Homo sapiens: one gene and its partner. The protein of the gene in region 2 interacts with the protein of the main gene of each other region in a pairwise test. Each region holds a gene or a part of one and is shown on either strand. Other genes may lie near its edges.

Region 1 (7,000 bases), on a different chromosome or scaffold from region 2:
GGTGCTCCCTCAGCCCCAAGAGAGCGCAGTCTCTCATTCTCCAGCCCCAGCCTTGTGGGCTGTCCCGCTGGTGCTGTCCTTTAGAACCCCTACAGGAGAGTTTTTTGCTCAAAAAGCTGCAGGTCAAAACGGACCCAGACCTCCCCGGTGGGGACCTCATGCAGCAGCAGTCGGCGGGTCATAGGGCCTTTGCTTTCCTGTTCTGTTCGAATTTTTGCCACTGGAATTTCAGTACGACCCAGGAAATCTGGTGAATAAACACAGGAGAGTCAGAAGTCTTTCTTCTTTATAAAATCATTAAAGAGCTACATCCGGAAGAAGTGGATTCATAAAACCTTCAAATCTGAAACAAGGAACTTCTTTTGGCTCATGGCTGTTGAATGTCGTGAGTGGGTGTGTGGGGAATGATGGCAGGTTTGTGTGTGAGAAGCTGCCACATGGAATTCAAATCTCCATTCTGAGAATGCTCCAGGAGTGGTGTTCACGTCGTGTGTGTAGGGAGTGATGGGTCAAAGACCTGAAACACATCTCAGGCCACCTCCTCCCCTGAGGAAGGCCACCCACCTGCTGCCAAAGCGAGATGACACAGGCCTGTGTCACTTCCCTGAAGTGGCATGGGGTCTGCACACAGCTGAAGCCCCTAGATCTGGACTCCAGGATCTAGGAAACTGGGAAAGCCTTTAGATCCCCTGGCTGAGCGACACTTACCATCTGGTGAAAACTGGTCTCTGTCAAACAGGGTGAGACACAGCACGTCTTGGTAGAGATCCTTAATAAAGAACTGGCAGTTAAAATTCCACTTGGGATTGAGTGTGTCCTGGATGGTCCTGGTGGTGTAGCTCTGGGAGCCCATGCTGATTTCACAGTATGGGTTGCTCTTTCCTGAACAAAAACAAACCACAGACACATGTGGTGCATGCAGGTAAAACGAAGCGACTGACAGTGCCCTCCCTGAGCAGAAGCAGGATTCCAATAATGGGTCACTCGAGACCATGGCAGCAGGAGCCGCTGCCTGGGGCACCATATCCCTGTGGTCTAGTAACAGGGTCTCCAAGTTCCCAGTGCTGACAGCAGCATTAACTGGGGAGTGGCCGAGAGCTCCACCGCCAGGACCACTCCGCACGGAACAATCCTGGGTGAGTGTCACTGCAACCTGCTGCATGCTTCCTCGGCGCAGACACACTCGGGAAGGCGGGCACTGGCACTTACTGGGAAAACAGTGATAAGAATATTGGTCCAATATGCGCATTTTAGTGGCACTGGACACACTGTTAGAAAGCATTCCTTTATTCAGTGTTCAGAAGAGTCATCAGTGGCTGGGCGCAGTGGCACTTTGTCAGTGACAAAGTGCTGTAATCCCAGCACTTTGGGAGGCCGAGGCGGGCAGATCACTTGAGGTCAGGAGTTCGAGACCAGCCTGGCCAACATGGTGAAACCCTGTGTCTACTAAAAATACAAGAATTTGCCAGGCGTGGTGGTGCACACCTGTAATCCCAGCTACTCAGGAGGCTAAGCCTTGAGAATCACTTGTACCCCAGAGGCAGAGGTTGCAGTGAGCCAAGATCGTGCCACTGCACTCCAGCCTAGGTTATACACTGAGACTCTGTCTCAAAAAGTCATCAGCAAAAACTGGGGCAGGGCAGTTATGTCTGCTGAATGAATCAAGGCAGTATTTACCATTTGGTTTGCAGGCTTTTAATTCTGTAGCTTCAATGACATGCACCATCAGGCGCCCAATGCCTGAAGTCTTTTGGGAGCGGGCTACAAAAGAGGAAGACAAGTCTCATTAATCTCTTCTCCAAGGATGCAGACCCTGTCTTTCAAACCAACCATAACACTACCGGCTCCCTGTCCCCATCTGCCACTGCCCTGGGCCCAACAGCCCAGCATCTGGCTGCCCTGTGCCTTTCCCCAGGCTGTGTTGCCTGCTAGGAAGCCCCTGCTTGCTCTTTCTGCCCTGCCTGCTTTCTCTGCCCGTCAGCATCCTACTCATCCTTCAAGATGCAGGTCTGATCCCACATCTACCTCCCAGATCCCTTCCCTCCTCTGCATCCAGTATCCCTCGCTTATGAGCAGCCCACAGCCTGCTGGGTCTGAAATCGTGTGTAATGTCTGTCTCCTCTGCCAGACAGGAGCCAGGGTAGAGCATGGACTGTTTCGATCATCCTTATATTAACCCCTCAATTGCCTAGCAAATAGTAATATTAATAAAATAATACATGGTATTTGTGCAGCACTTAATAGCAGCTAACATTTACTGGATACTTACTTTGTGTTAGGCATGTGCTAGACTTATGTAAATTATATTATTTAAACTGCATAATTACCTGATAATGTAGCTCCCCATTTTACTGATGAGAAACACTGAGGCTTAGAAAGGACTGGAGTGTGATCCACTCAGAGCTGCTAAATGGCAGGGTCAACATTTAAACATCAGATACCAAAGTCCAGGCTCAGTTAAGCCTAGCACAGAGCCTGGCACAAAGTAATTGACAAATGTGGGAAGGACTGAACGCACGGACGATGCACAGCAACATATGCAGATGCTGATGGGAAGCAAAACTCAGGCAGAAAAACCGGATTGACATCTTTGGCCAATTAAGAGATCATATGCGTTATGAAATGATCAATCATTGATTTTTCAACAGCAAGCTTTTAAAGTACCATTAAAATAACACTAAATTAGCAAAAGCTGTTTTAAACATACCTTTTAGGAGTATATAACAAAATGGGGGAAACCTGAATAAAAAAACACATAAAGAGCTGCAACTATAGCAGCCAGGAAGCTGGTGGGAGGCCCAGGCAGGAGGGCAGGCTGCATGGGGGGGCCCGGCGGGAAGGAAGGTGGAGATGCAGGGGGCCGGCGGGGAGGAAGGTGGAGATGCAGCTGGCTCAGAGCACAGGCCCCCTGTGGGGTGGAGGCCACAGGCTGGCCTGGCACAGCTGGAGATGCAGCAGGGAGGTTGGGGCCTGGCATTCATGTGGAGGCTGGAGAAGAATGTGGGAGCTCTGGTCTGAAGGCCACGGTGGGGCAGGGTGGGGTGGGGGGTGCTTTACAAAGACCATTGCGGCTCCACTGAGCAGGTGAGTGATCTGTGCCATGAACACAGAGGACATCACCGGTGCAACAAATCTGGAGCCCCACTGGCATAAGTCACATGCTGGCCCCGATGTGGGAGGGAGTTGCCTTGAGGGAGCTTATGGCCATTAAGTGAGAAAAGCAGGGACTGAGAGGGCGCAAGCAGAGGCAACAGAGGATGAGCGCCCGGAGGATGATCGCAGCCTCAGGACAGCGGGGGGTCCAGGTAGAAGTCACACTGGTTAGGGCAAGAGGGTGTCATGGAGGAGGCTGTGTTTGACGTGGGCCTTGAAGGATGGGAAGAATTTAAGGTGAGGGCAGAGCACTTGAGCTGGAGGGGGAGCTCACATGGGAAGGCCAGGCAGGGCAACAATGGGCTGCTCAACTAGGCAGCTGGATGGGCCGGGCACAGGAAAGAGCTAGGGATGGGGCTGGGTGGCAGGTAGTAGTGGGGATGGGCCCTGAGTGTGGGGTAAGAAATGTGTCGTTAATTTGGGAGGCAATAGGGAAGATACTTCAGCAGGAAGAGGTATAAGAGCAGCTCTGGAAAAAAGAATACTCCAGAAATGAAGAGGATGGGTGGCAGAGAGGAAAGAGAGCCTTGTGCTGCAGCCTGGGTGGGAGATCGGGGGCCTGTGATACGGGGACAGGAAAGGGCGATGGGAAAGTGGCGAGGGAGGAGGACTGCAGTGCAGCTGACCAGGTGTGAGGTGCCAGGGAGGGGCCTGGGTGGCCAGGGACCACACTACTGTCCACAGAGGGTCCCAGGAGGAGCTGCTGCTGGAAGGAGGCTGGTGGTCCCTTGGGAAAAGCCGATGTGTGATGTGGGAGCAGCGGGGCAGGTGGTTCTCTGGAGGGTGCTGTTCAGAGGCGCGGGCTTGGGAGAGTGTGGCTAGCCTGACCCTGAAGCTGGGGGTCGGTGGGGTCCCCGAGGGAGAGCGCTACAGAGGTCGGGGAGAGGCCTGGGCAAGGGTGGAAGAAGAACTGGGAAGGCGGCCATGGGGTCCAGAGGGAAGGCAGCGCCTCAGTGACTGCCATCAGTGCAGGGAGCTGGGGCAGGGAAAGTGAGCTGAGCCACTAACTAGGCCACTGGTGTCACTGGTGGGGACAGGACGTGGACTGAAGTCTGGTGAAGTGAGAAGGGGGAGGAGGCAGGGGCAGAAGGATGGGGAGAGGGCAGACTTAGGGTCTAGGCCCCCTGGCTGCAAAGGGAGAGGGTGGATGGCAGGCCCTAGAGGAGGGTGAGGAGGAGCAGTGGCTGCTCAGGAGCTGAAGGGAGACAGACCACAGGTGTGGCATGTAATGGAGCACCACAGCCCAAGCAGAGGTGAGGTGAGTCATGGAGAGAAAGGAGTGGAGAAGGTGCAGTGGAGTGGGGGGGATAGAGGTGGTGCAGAGAGGGAGGTCCCGGAGCTGGCACTGCCAGCCCGTGTCTGTGTGGGCAGGAGCCCCAGGGAGGTTTGCAGTAGTAGCTTCAAGAGGGGAGGGCTCTCTGGTCTGATCCCGCAGCAGGTCTGGTCTTTCAGACCCGTCCCTATATCATCAGCCTGACTGCAGGAGCAGTGGCCGGCATTCCTAGGGCCCCTGGGGGCTGCGTCCCACCCTCCGGGCACCCTGATACCTTGGTAAGCTTTCTCACGCTTCTTCTTCTCGGTGTCGATGTACTGCTCAGACGCCGCCTTGATCTTCTGCACCCAGGCGGTCCTACGGGAGAAGCAGGGGCAGCCGTTGGCCGCATCCCACCCTCACAGGTCAGCGTGGAGCCCCAGAGCTCTGCACATGTTCTTCAGTCTTTTGCTAACCTCAACTTTCACAAGTTTCCTATCAAAGACCTGATATTAGTCAACTGAAAGATGCTTATGCTAATGGAGTATGAGAGCTGGTAGTGACCCTTCTTGGCTGACCACAAAATGCCAGGCACTCGCAAGGCGCTGGGACCTGGAGACAGATGATGCATTGGCCCCACGGATGATACCTGTCACGAGGGGTTCTAGCGCACACAGAGGAGCAGCAGCACCCCCCGGGTTGGCGCCGCGGAGGCACTGTTGGAGCTGCAGCCTGAAGGAAGCTGGGAACAGCGGGGATGGCACCCACACAAGGGCGCCTGAGGGGCGAAAGTCTGCAGGTGGAGGGACGAGGGCTGAGGCCTGTGGCCCAAGGAGGCCTCGGAAACCAGCAAAGCACAGTGGGCTGTCGCCTGCGGGCAGCCCCTGCAGGGACTGTAGCAGGGCCTCAGGTGCTGATCTGCCATTTGGGAAGGCTGCTGAGTGGTGTGGGGAGAGACTAGAAGCCGGGAAGCATGTTAGGAGGCAGCTGCAGTGACCAAGGCCTACCATGGGACTGGAGCAGAGGGGATGTGTTAAGAGAGGTTCAGGATACAGAATTAGTGGGGCTTAAGCACGGCTGGAGATGGGTTTATGGCAGAGGGAGACGTCCAGGCCTTCTCCCAGAGTTCAAGGCAGGCCACACATGGTCAGGACTGACCTCTCATTAATGTTGTCTGTTCGGAGGGTGTAGACCCGATCAATGTGGGAAATGTGGAAGACAGGCTCATCGCTGGAAGGGTCTGTGGGCAGTTTCACCAAGACTTCATTCAGGAAAATGGGCTGAAAGAATTAGGGCCAAAACACAGGCTGTGAGATGGGCTAGAACACTCCACCCGCCTATGTCCAGAGAGAGTTCTGTTTGTTCTGAAGAGCCTTGTTGAGAAGGAGAAAGGGGTCTAGCGTCTAAGGTCTTCTACACAGAACAAATGAAACCTCCATTTGTAAGAACAATGAAGCCTCCATTTCTGGAAAAGTCATTATCGAGGTGGGTCAGGTGTTGGGACTGGGTGGGGACAGGAGCTCCAAGCGCCCATGACGGCTGGTGCAAAAGGCTCTCTGCTAGCAACGCTGGTGCTGTGCTGGGGCTCGGCTTACAGAGACCCAATGCTGAATGCACACAGTGGTGAGCCCAGGTGTCACGCTGGCCAGGAGGAAGCCAGAATCTCAGCTGGAATCTGGCTGATGGCCTGTGGCAGGTGGGGAGTGCCCAGCTGCATGGGGCCCTTCCCGTGGGAAGCAGCAAAGGAAGCACGAGCGATCTGGAACCAGGTGAGGAGGGTCCCGTAAGGCCAGCTCAGGGTCTGCCAGGAAGGCCTTAAGATAGAGGCAACACCTCATTAGGCCCCTGATGCTACCCCCAGACGCGTGATACTCACCGTTTTATACATTTTGAATTGAGCATTGGACTTCGAGCTGAAAAGTTTCTCAGAGCCAGAGGAAACAGCAAACTGCTTGACCATGTAGGTAAGAAGCAGGAAGTCATTGAAGAGGAATCCGTGCAGTTCCTTGTTGCTCTTGGTCTTGTATAATTTCCCACTGTGTAAGAGCTTCCGGGGCCCCAGGCAGTTGGTGAGAGAGTTGAAAATAAGTTGCTTAAAGAGAAAGAAAATTTCACTTTTTAAATCCCGGCACAAACCATCCAGTGCCCCTGAGAGGCCAGTGCCCTGGGCCTGAGGATACTGTGGTGGAGTTTTCTAGGTGGGAATGTGGCTAGAATCATTCACTTTGCATGAAAGATCCTTAAATACATTACTCTTCAGAGTCCAAACTGGCCCAGTGAAAATCATTACTTCTAGCCACAGAACACTGATTCTACCAGCTGAATTCAAAGAACTCAAAACAAAAAATCCCAGTGTTCTCTCCTTAGGAGAAAGGAAGATGACAATCCAAGAAGGAATGCCCTTCATGCCTGCAATCCCAGCACTGTTGGGAGACAGAGGCGGGAGGATCACTTGACGCCAGGAGTTCAAGACCAGCCTGGCCAACATGGTGAAACCCCAGCTCTACTAAAAATACGAAAATTAGCTGGGCATCGTAGCAGATGCCTGTAGTCCCAGCTACTTGGGAGATGGAGGCCAGAGAATCGCTCCAACCC
Region 2 (7,831 bases):
GGATGGTTAATGAGTAAAACAAATAAAAATAAAAGGAATGAATAAGAACTGGTACTTGATAGCACAACATGGTGACTATATAATTTAACTGTACATTTTAAAATAACTAAAAGAGTATAATTGGTTTGTAACACAAAAGATAAATGTGTGAGGGGATGGATGCCCCATTTTCCATGATGTGGTTATTACATATTACATGCCTGTATCAAAATATCTCATGTATCCCATAAATATATATACCTACTATGTACCCACAAAAAAATAAAAATTTTAAAAAGTCATGGCTTTTAACAAGAATCTGCTAAACCAGCCATGGAATCAGCACAGTCCATATTTTAATCAATCCCTTGGCATTCCCAAAGTAAGCTTCAATTGCTTTTTATAAGTTTTTGCTGGTTGTAGGAAAGGGTAGACTCAAGGAGAGATAATCTCATGTATTTTCATTAATTCATAAGCATCCCATAAAAAATGCAGAGCATCAGATTTCTAGGTTTAGCTGAGACCTCAAAGCCATCTTCGATTTTGCCTTGCCAGATCACATCTCCTAAGATTTGCATTTCTGAGTGGTTTATAACTTTAGGTGTGTGAAGTAGCGATGGTGACAGTGACATGTTTAGTTTTAAAACTTTTTTCTTTTAAGACGCATGGAATCTCAGAGTAGGAAAGGCAACTAGGTTGTCATTCATTTGTTTTCAGATTAAGATATTGGGGCCCGGAGCAATTAACTAAATTCCCCCACTGGAAAGAAGAGCCTAAGGAGCCAGGGCTAGGATTCAGGTCTCCTCCCTCCCAAGCTGATGCGAGATCCTGGTACTCAAAGCTGGTCGTGGATCAGCATCACCTGGGAGCTTGTTAGAACGGCAGGCTCTCAAGGCCCACCCCAGAGCCAACGAGGCAGAACCCGATTTGCCACAAGAATCTCCAGGTGAGGTGAACAAGTAAGGTTTTGGAAGCACTGCTGTCCCGGGTTTGTTGACTTAGGGTGAGGAGGGGAGGTGTTCTCAGCCAATCTCCTTAAGGTTCGTCCCTCACCTGGTCACAACGCACTCACCACTTTCTCCGGCAAATGTGTGTGCCAGGCTCCAGAGGCGTTCTCTCTTCCCCTCCTTAGAATCATTCAGACTGCGCAGTTAAGCTAGGCAGTCTCCATCTGTGATACACCCAAAGCCTCTCCTGGCGTGGCACATGCTCCCTCTCTGAAAGCAAAGGTATTGACTTTGCAGCTGAAAAAGAGACTGGGGCTTGGGATGGGAGAGGCAGGTGCTGAGGGCTGGGGTCTGGCTGTCCCATTGCCCAAGGTGTCTTGTAAGCCTCAGTTTTACCCACCGTGAGCAGCCACTTAGTTCCCTGTCCTCAGGGCAGAGAGGTGGGAAAGGACACAGGTGAAGAGTTTGGAGGTGGTATCACTGGAACATTCTAGGTTCAGAGCCGAGGAAAGGGAAGGAAGTCATTTGCCTCTTCCGGGTTACTCCCACCAGTCAGTAAGAAGTCAATGTAGAACCACCCCTCGCCTTAGCATTCACAGACAGGCAGCCAGCAGCAGGGGTGAGAAACTGCACGGGAGCCCGTGCTCACCTTAAATTTGGCCATTTTGCTACATCTTGCCGGGAGCCTGGAGCAGCCCGGTCCTCCGCTGGGTCTGAGCAGCAGCCGCTAACAACCTGCCCCCTCCCGCAACCCAAGTCCCACACCAACGCCAGAGCCAGGAGAGAATTTAGAGTCAGAGTTCTGCTCAGGGAGACCACATCCTACTTCAAAGGCCCCTGGGGACATGCATCTTCATTTCCTAGCAGCTGTGATGAAGAAGCAGGCGTGCGGGGGTGAGGCCCTGTCCTCAGGGGGTGTGTGGGCTCACTAGAAACATACAACTCCATCTGAGATGGAAGGCTGGCTTGGGGCACGCCAAGGAGAAGGAGAAGAAGGCATGAGAGAGTGGGCAGGAATGCAGGATGCAGGAATACAACCAGGTGCCCGAGAGCCCCATGTCCTCAAAAACCTGCCTTAGAATGAAGCTCAGACCTTCACACTGGAGCCGTGGAACTTGATCCCACCTCCTGCGGCCTGGGCCTGGGGCACAAGCACAAGCTGCCTCTGTGGCTGACAGGCTCCCAGTGAATCCGCTGCTCCGAGTCACCTTTTCAACCAGGAGGCTTTACAAGCAGTGGCAGCCTGCCAGCCTCGCGGGCCAAGGGCACAGACGGCGCAGCCCACAGGACCTGGCCGGGGCATCTAGCCTCCTGGCGCAGCACCAGACTCACGCTCCGAGGCTGGCTCCTGCCCAGTGCCCCCCAGGGCAAGGCACAGTTCCATCCACCAACTTGGCAGAGCCTCCTAGCCCCCCCCAGAAAAGCCCACAGGGTCAGGAAGACACGCTCTGCAGGAGCCCCAGCACCCTCCCGCAGACACTTCTCCAGCTCAAACCCAGGGGCATCTTGGAGCCGACCCAGTCTAACGTTCTGGGTTTGCCAGGCCTCATGTTCCTTGAGAAGCCTGGGGCCTTGTAGCATCCTTTGCACTGGGGGGCGCTTTCCTCAGCACCTTGGGGCCGCATCAGCCTCTGCTCCCAGTGCTGGGGACATCCGTGTGGAGGCTCAGCTCTGCCCCCAGGAGCGTGGGCTTCAAGCATGTTTCTCCCAGAGATCATGTTTCGCCTTTGTAGTGCCACACCCTCTGCTCAGAAAGGGGCTGGCTGTTTCCCCAAGTGGGAACCTCCTCGATCAAAAGTGTATGTCAGATGAAAACCAAGATAAGCCAGAGACAACAGGACAAAGGGAGTCTTTTTCCATATATATATATATATATATATATATATATATATATATATTCATTTTTTTACATAAGAATGAGATTTTACTGAACATATTGTTCTCTGGAGCCTTCCACTGGAGGTGGAGCCTCAGGCAAGTTCTTAGGCCTCTTGTGCCTCAGTTTCCCCAAGTGTAAAATGGAGATTACTAGTACTTGCCTTGACATAAGGATGAAGTAAGTTAATAAATGTAAGCCACTTGGATCAGCACCTGGTAGGTGGTAAACACTCCACAAATGTCAGCTATTATGATCAAGTTGAACCAAAGTTTATTTAACCAGTGAAAAACTCAAAACAGCTTGCAATAAACATCCTTGAAGCAAAATGGGCTAGTGATCTGGGACTGTTTCCTGAGATAAACTTCTGCATGTAGAATAGCGGATTAAGCACTCCGGTTTTCATTCACCTGTCTAAATTTTCCTCCAGAAAGAAAGAATGACTTACATTTACATGAACAGTGCCAGAAGGCTCCTGCCCGTGAGATCTCGAAAAGAAGCAGTACCCTGAACTGGGCTGTTTCGTATGGACTTTGAAGGTGGACCCAGCCTGCCCACTGACAGCCTCCTGTCCACAGTGTGTGGTTGATGGCACCGCAGCTCTGGGGGCTTTAAGTGTCATGTGCACCCTCCCAACCCAATTTGGTTTTCACCTCGAGGACAGCTGGCCACGACACCAACAAGCCCTGCCCAGAAATGCTAAAGGGACTCCGATCAAATTCCCAAGTCTGAGCCTGAACCAGTTTACCCATGGCTTTAAGGACAATTCAAGTGGAAAGAAAACAGAATATATTCCCCATCCTCAGTGGGAAGGCCGAAGGAGCCCAGCAACAGAAACTGAGCAGCCAAAAAGCACAAAGGGGACCCTGAGCACCCCAGGAACGCTCCAGAAGAGAGACACAGCAGAGAGACACGGGCTGGGACAGGTGCCCAGGACAGGTCTGCCTGAATATCTGTAGGGTCTGGGGCCAGAGTACTCATGAGTGCTGCATCCTGTATGCCCAGCTGTTCAGTTTTAAATCAAGCTAACAAAGTAAAACAGTTAAATAAAATAGGTTCTATCCTCCTACCTCGAAAAGTATGCCACCGTGACTACCTGGAAGGCCAGGTTCATTATGTAGCCAGTGGGGAGGGCGGCCCCAGCCTGGCCACCTTCTCTTCCCCGACTTCCCCCAACCTGGGCTTCATGCCCCCCTGCAGGGAGCCTCGTGCATACACACACAGAGTCCCAGCTAGTGTGTGTCCCGTTCCACCTGTAACATGCCCTTGCCACCCCAACGCCCGGGCCTGGGGTGGACATACGGCTGCACAGTCTGCCTGAGGCCCTGGGAGGGGGCTGAGCAGGCTGCACTATGTGCTTAGCACACTCCAGGGTCTTGAGCAGCAGGAATGTCATCCAGAAAGGGGAGCATAGAGGCCACTGGACATGGCCCTCGGCCCTCTCTTGCCCGGGGCTAGAGGCAGTGCCGTCAAAGGGCCCAGACCTTGTCCTCCCGAGCTCACCAGCAGAGCGCTCCCTGTTCTTCCAGGCTGTGGTCGACCCTTCCCAAGTGGTCACTTTGCTTTTAAAAATGTGTCTTGGCCAATGTCTCAGAATCAGTTCATGCCACCATTTCTGCTGCTGGCCACACGAAATCTGCCAAGTAAATTTCGAACTTGCATAGCATGGTAACTATAGTTAATAATAATGTATATTTTGAAATCACTAGGAGAGTAAATTTCAAATGTTCTCCCTACAAACAATAAGTGGTCAGGTGCAGTGGCTCATGTCTGTAATCCCAGAACTTTGGGAGGCCGAGGCGGGCGGATCACTTGAAGTCGGGAGTTCGAGACCAGCTTGGCCAACACGGCGAAACCCCATCTCTACTAAAAATACAAAAATTAGCCGGACGTGATGGCACGCGCCTGTAGTCCCAGCTACTCAGGAGGCTGAGGCAGGAGAATCGCTTGAACCTGGGAGGCGGAGGTTACAGTGAGCCGAGATCGGTGCCACTGCACTCCAGCCTGGGTGAGAGAGCAAGACTCCACCTCAAAAAAGATAAATAAATAAACAAAGAAGTATTTGAGGTGATGACTACGTTAATCATCTTGATTTAATCATTCCACATTGTACACATATATGATCACTTTGTACCCCATAATATATAATCATCCTAATCTGTTGGCCTAGCACAGTGGCTCACGCCTATAATCCCAGCACTTTGGGAGGCCGAAGCGGGTGGATCACCTGAGGTCAGGAGTTCGATACCAGCCTGGCCAACATGGTGAAATGCCATCTCTACTAAAAATACAAAAATTAGCCGGGCATGGTAGCACACGCCTATAGTCCCAGCTACTCGGAAGGCTAAGGCCAGAGAATCACTTGAACCTGGGAGGAAGAGGTTGCAGTGAGCCAAGATTGTGCCACAGCACTCCCAGCTGGGCGACAGAGCAAGACTCCATCTCAAAAAACGATAATAATTTGTCAATTTACAATAAAATAAAAAAATTGAACTTCTATATCTAAATGCAAGAAAAAAAAAAAAGCCAACCCAACAAATTAGAATCTTGCCTGGCTTTAAACAAACTAAATTTTAGGAGATTCACGTTTTCATAAAAAATACAGGGACAAGTGAAATAAAAATGGCAATATATTGATAACTATCAATGCCGAATGGCAGGTAGACAGGGGATTCATTTTTCCCTCTACTTTTGTGTTTGAACGTTTTCACAATTAAAGGCTAAAAGCCAAGTTTTTGAGCCACACAGCCAAAACAAGAGCCTGGTAAGATTTGAAATCACGATCTTACAGGTGAGCTACAAAAATCACGGGGAAGGCCGGGCGTGGTGGCTCATTGCCTGTAACCCCAGCACTTTGAGAGGCTGAGGTGGGCGGATCATTTGGGGCCAGGAGTTTGAGACCAGCCTGACCAACATGGTGAAACCCTTTCTCTACTAAAAATACAAATATTAGCCGGGCGTGGTGGTGCATGCCTGTAGTCCCAGCTACTCAGGAGGCTGAGGCAGGAGAATCCCTTGAACCTGGGAGGTGGGGGTTGCAGTGAGCCAAGATTGCGCCATTGTACTCCAGCTGGGCAAAGAGACTCCGTCTCAAACAAACAAACAAAACCCGCGGGAGAAGCACACACCATCCCAGTTTGCATTTTGTAAACACTACGCTGAGACAGCCTCCGGCTAGGAGAGGAGGCAAACCAGTCCTGGAGGCAGACAGACCACTGTGGTCCCGGGTCGCTGCTCTAGTTTCCCACGTCAGGGGCCCCGGAACCCTTGCCTGGTCCTACCTGTGGTTTCAACTTTGTCCAGGAGCATTTATAAAATGGTGACTTATTTGATTCTCTGTGGTCCTCTCTAGCAGATCAAAATTCCAGTCCGTGACCAAATAAATCTGGCCATAATGCCTGAGAAAGTGATCTAGGCAACAGTTCAGACTGAGTCCTGCTCTGCCCTGGGGCCATCTCACCAATTCAAACAAAGCTAAACTCGAGACGTGGCCTCGCACAACAGCAGCTGGGAGAACCTGGGGGCCTGGTGTTTACACAGAACCTTTCCCCCCAGAAGCTCAAAGTAATTTAGGGACACCCATTAATTAACTTAATTAATTCTCTCAAGTCTCCTGCCCCATCCCTCCCTCCCTGCTGCCTGTTCACAGCAAAGCCCGGCTGGGCGGCAGGAGGCACGACTTCACTCACACACAGCCCGCACTGTAAACACAGGGACACCCTCAGGCCACCGTTCCTGGGGGCTGTTGGAGAACCTTGAACTTTGGAACACTGTCGCTTACTCTGAAAATACACAAAATCCATTAACAATAAGCACTTTTCCCTAAGTTTACAAGAGACAGAGACAGGAGTAGGTTTTTGTCCCATGTGCAAATAAGGGAACATCTGTTTGCTAATTGTGGATTGTTGGCCAGGGATGCTGGTACCGGCTACGGGGCTTCCCACCTGTGCTGAGAAGGCCAACTACCCTCCAGTCAGGTTCCCGAGACTTCATAAAAGCCTTTTAAATCAGTGCCAATACATTTGGCTTTTCTGCCTCTGGAATTTTTGCTCCCACTGATCTACATAAAAGACAGATTCAGATTCACAACCTAATTCTTTTAGAAGCAGGAATTTGGAATAATTCCTTCAACAATCCTGCTAGCAGGCCAGACGGCCCTAGTGTGAAGAGTTCACTTTAGAGCAGGACAGGTGAAGACAGGTGAAGACAGGTTCAGATGGAAGGAGTCCAGCAATCAACGAATCATGGACCATCCGTTTTTCCTAAAAATCACAGCCCAGTTCAAGCCCCTGTCTCCAGGCCTTGCCTGAAAATGATAAGGAACCACCCAGCCCCTTCGGCGAGAGGTACTTTTCCAGTTAGGATCCTTCAGGAATAAAATGTGCTATGAAGGGGCAGCGCCTGTGGTCATCAGGCCCAGTCCCCTCATCTCCTCTCGCCCCTAGGAAAGCAGCTATGTGCATCCGCAGCGGAGCAGGATGGAAGTTAGAATGACTCAGGGGCCGGGAAAGACCACTACCCACGAAGCAGTTACCACAACTTGTCTCTCAGCCTCTCATTACTAACTGGGAGGGACCCATCACAGGAAAACCACAGCTGAAGAGAAAAGGAAGCTACCCCCGACTCGGAACTTCAAGGAAAGGGTGAAAGGTCAAGATTAGACCACCAGCTACGCCAGCTGCCACAAGTGTCCTGTCCCATACAAAAGTAGAGATTGCAGCCTTCTTGTAAAAATTCACCTTCTCGGGTCAGGCATGGTGGCTCACGCCTGTAATCCTAGCACTTTGGGAGGCCAAAGCAGGTGGATCACCTAAGGTCAGGAGTTAGAAACCAGCCTGGCCAAAATGGCACAACCCCGTCTCTACTAAAAATACAAAAATTAGCCAGGCATGGTGGCGTGTGCCTGTAATCCTAGCTACTGGGGAGGCTGAGGCAGGAGAATCACTTGAACCCAGGTGGGGGTGGCGGTGTTGCAGTCAGCCGAGATCGCACCACTTCACTCAGCCCAGGCAACAAGAGTGAAGCTCCA

Evidence for each region. The genes of interacting proteins can lie anywhere in the genome.
Region 1: the proteins of SYNJ2 (region 2) and ITSN2 interact in a two-hybrid assay, tested with the Homo sapiens proteins (2 studies listed by BioGRID and IntAct).

What each region holds. Positions count from the first base shown.
Region 1 is NC_000002.12:24,203,537-24,210,536, forward strand, and holds part of ITSN2 (intersectin-2), read right to left. Parts: intron 6,498-7,000; coding exon 6,282-6,497; intron 5,686-6,281; coding exon 5,564-5,685; intron 4,784-5,563; coding exon 4,701-4,783; intron 2,740-4,700; coding exon of another isoform or gene 2,711-2,739; exon of another isoform or gene 2,708-2,710; intron 1,762-2,707; coding exon 1,678-1,761; intron 883-1,677; coding exon 709-882; intron 248-708; coding exon 90-247; 3' UTR 1-89.
Region 2 is NC_000006.12:157,984,421-157,992,251, reverse strand, and holds part of SYNJ2 (synaptojanin-2), read right to left. Parts: intron 1-7,831. UniProt on the Homo sapiens protein: Inositol 5-phosphatase which may be involved in distinct membrane trafficking and signal transduction pathways. May mediate the inhibitory effect of Rac1 on endocytosis.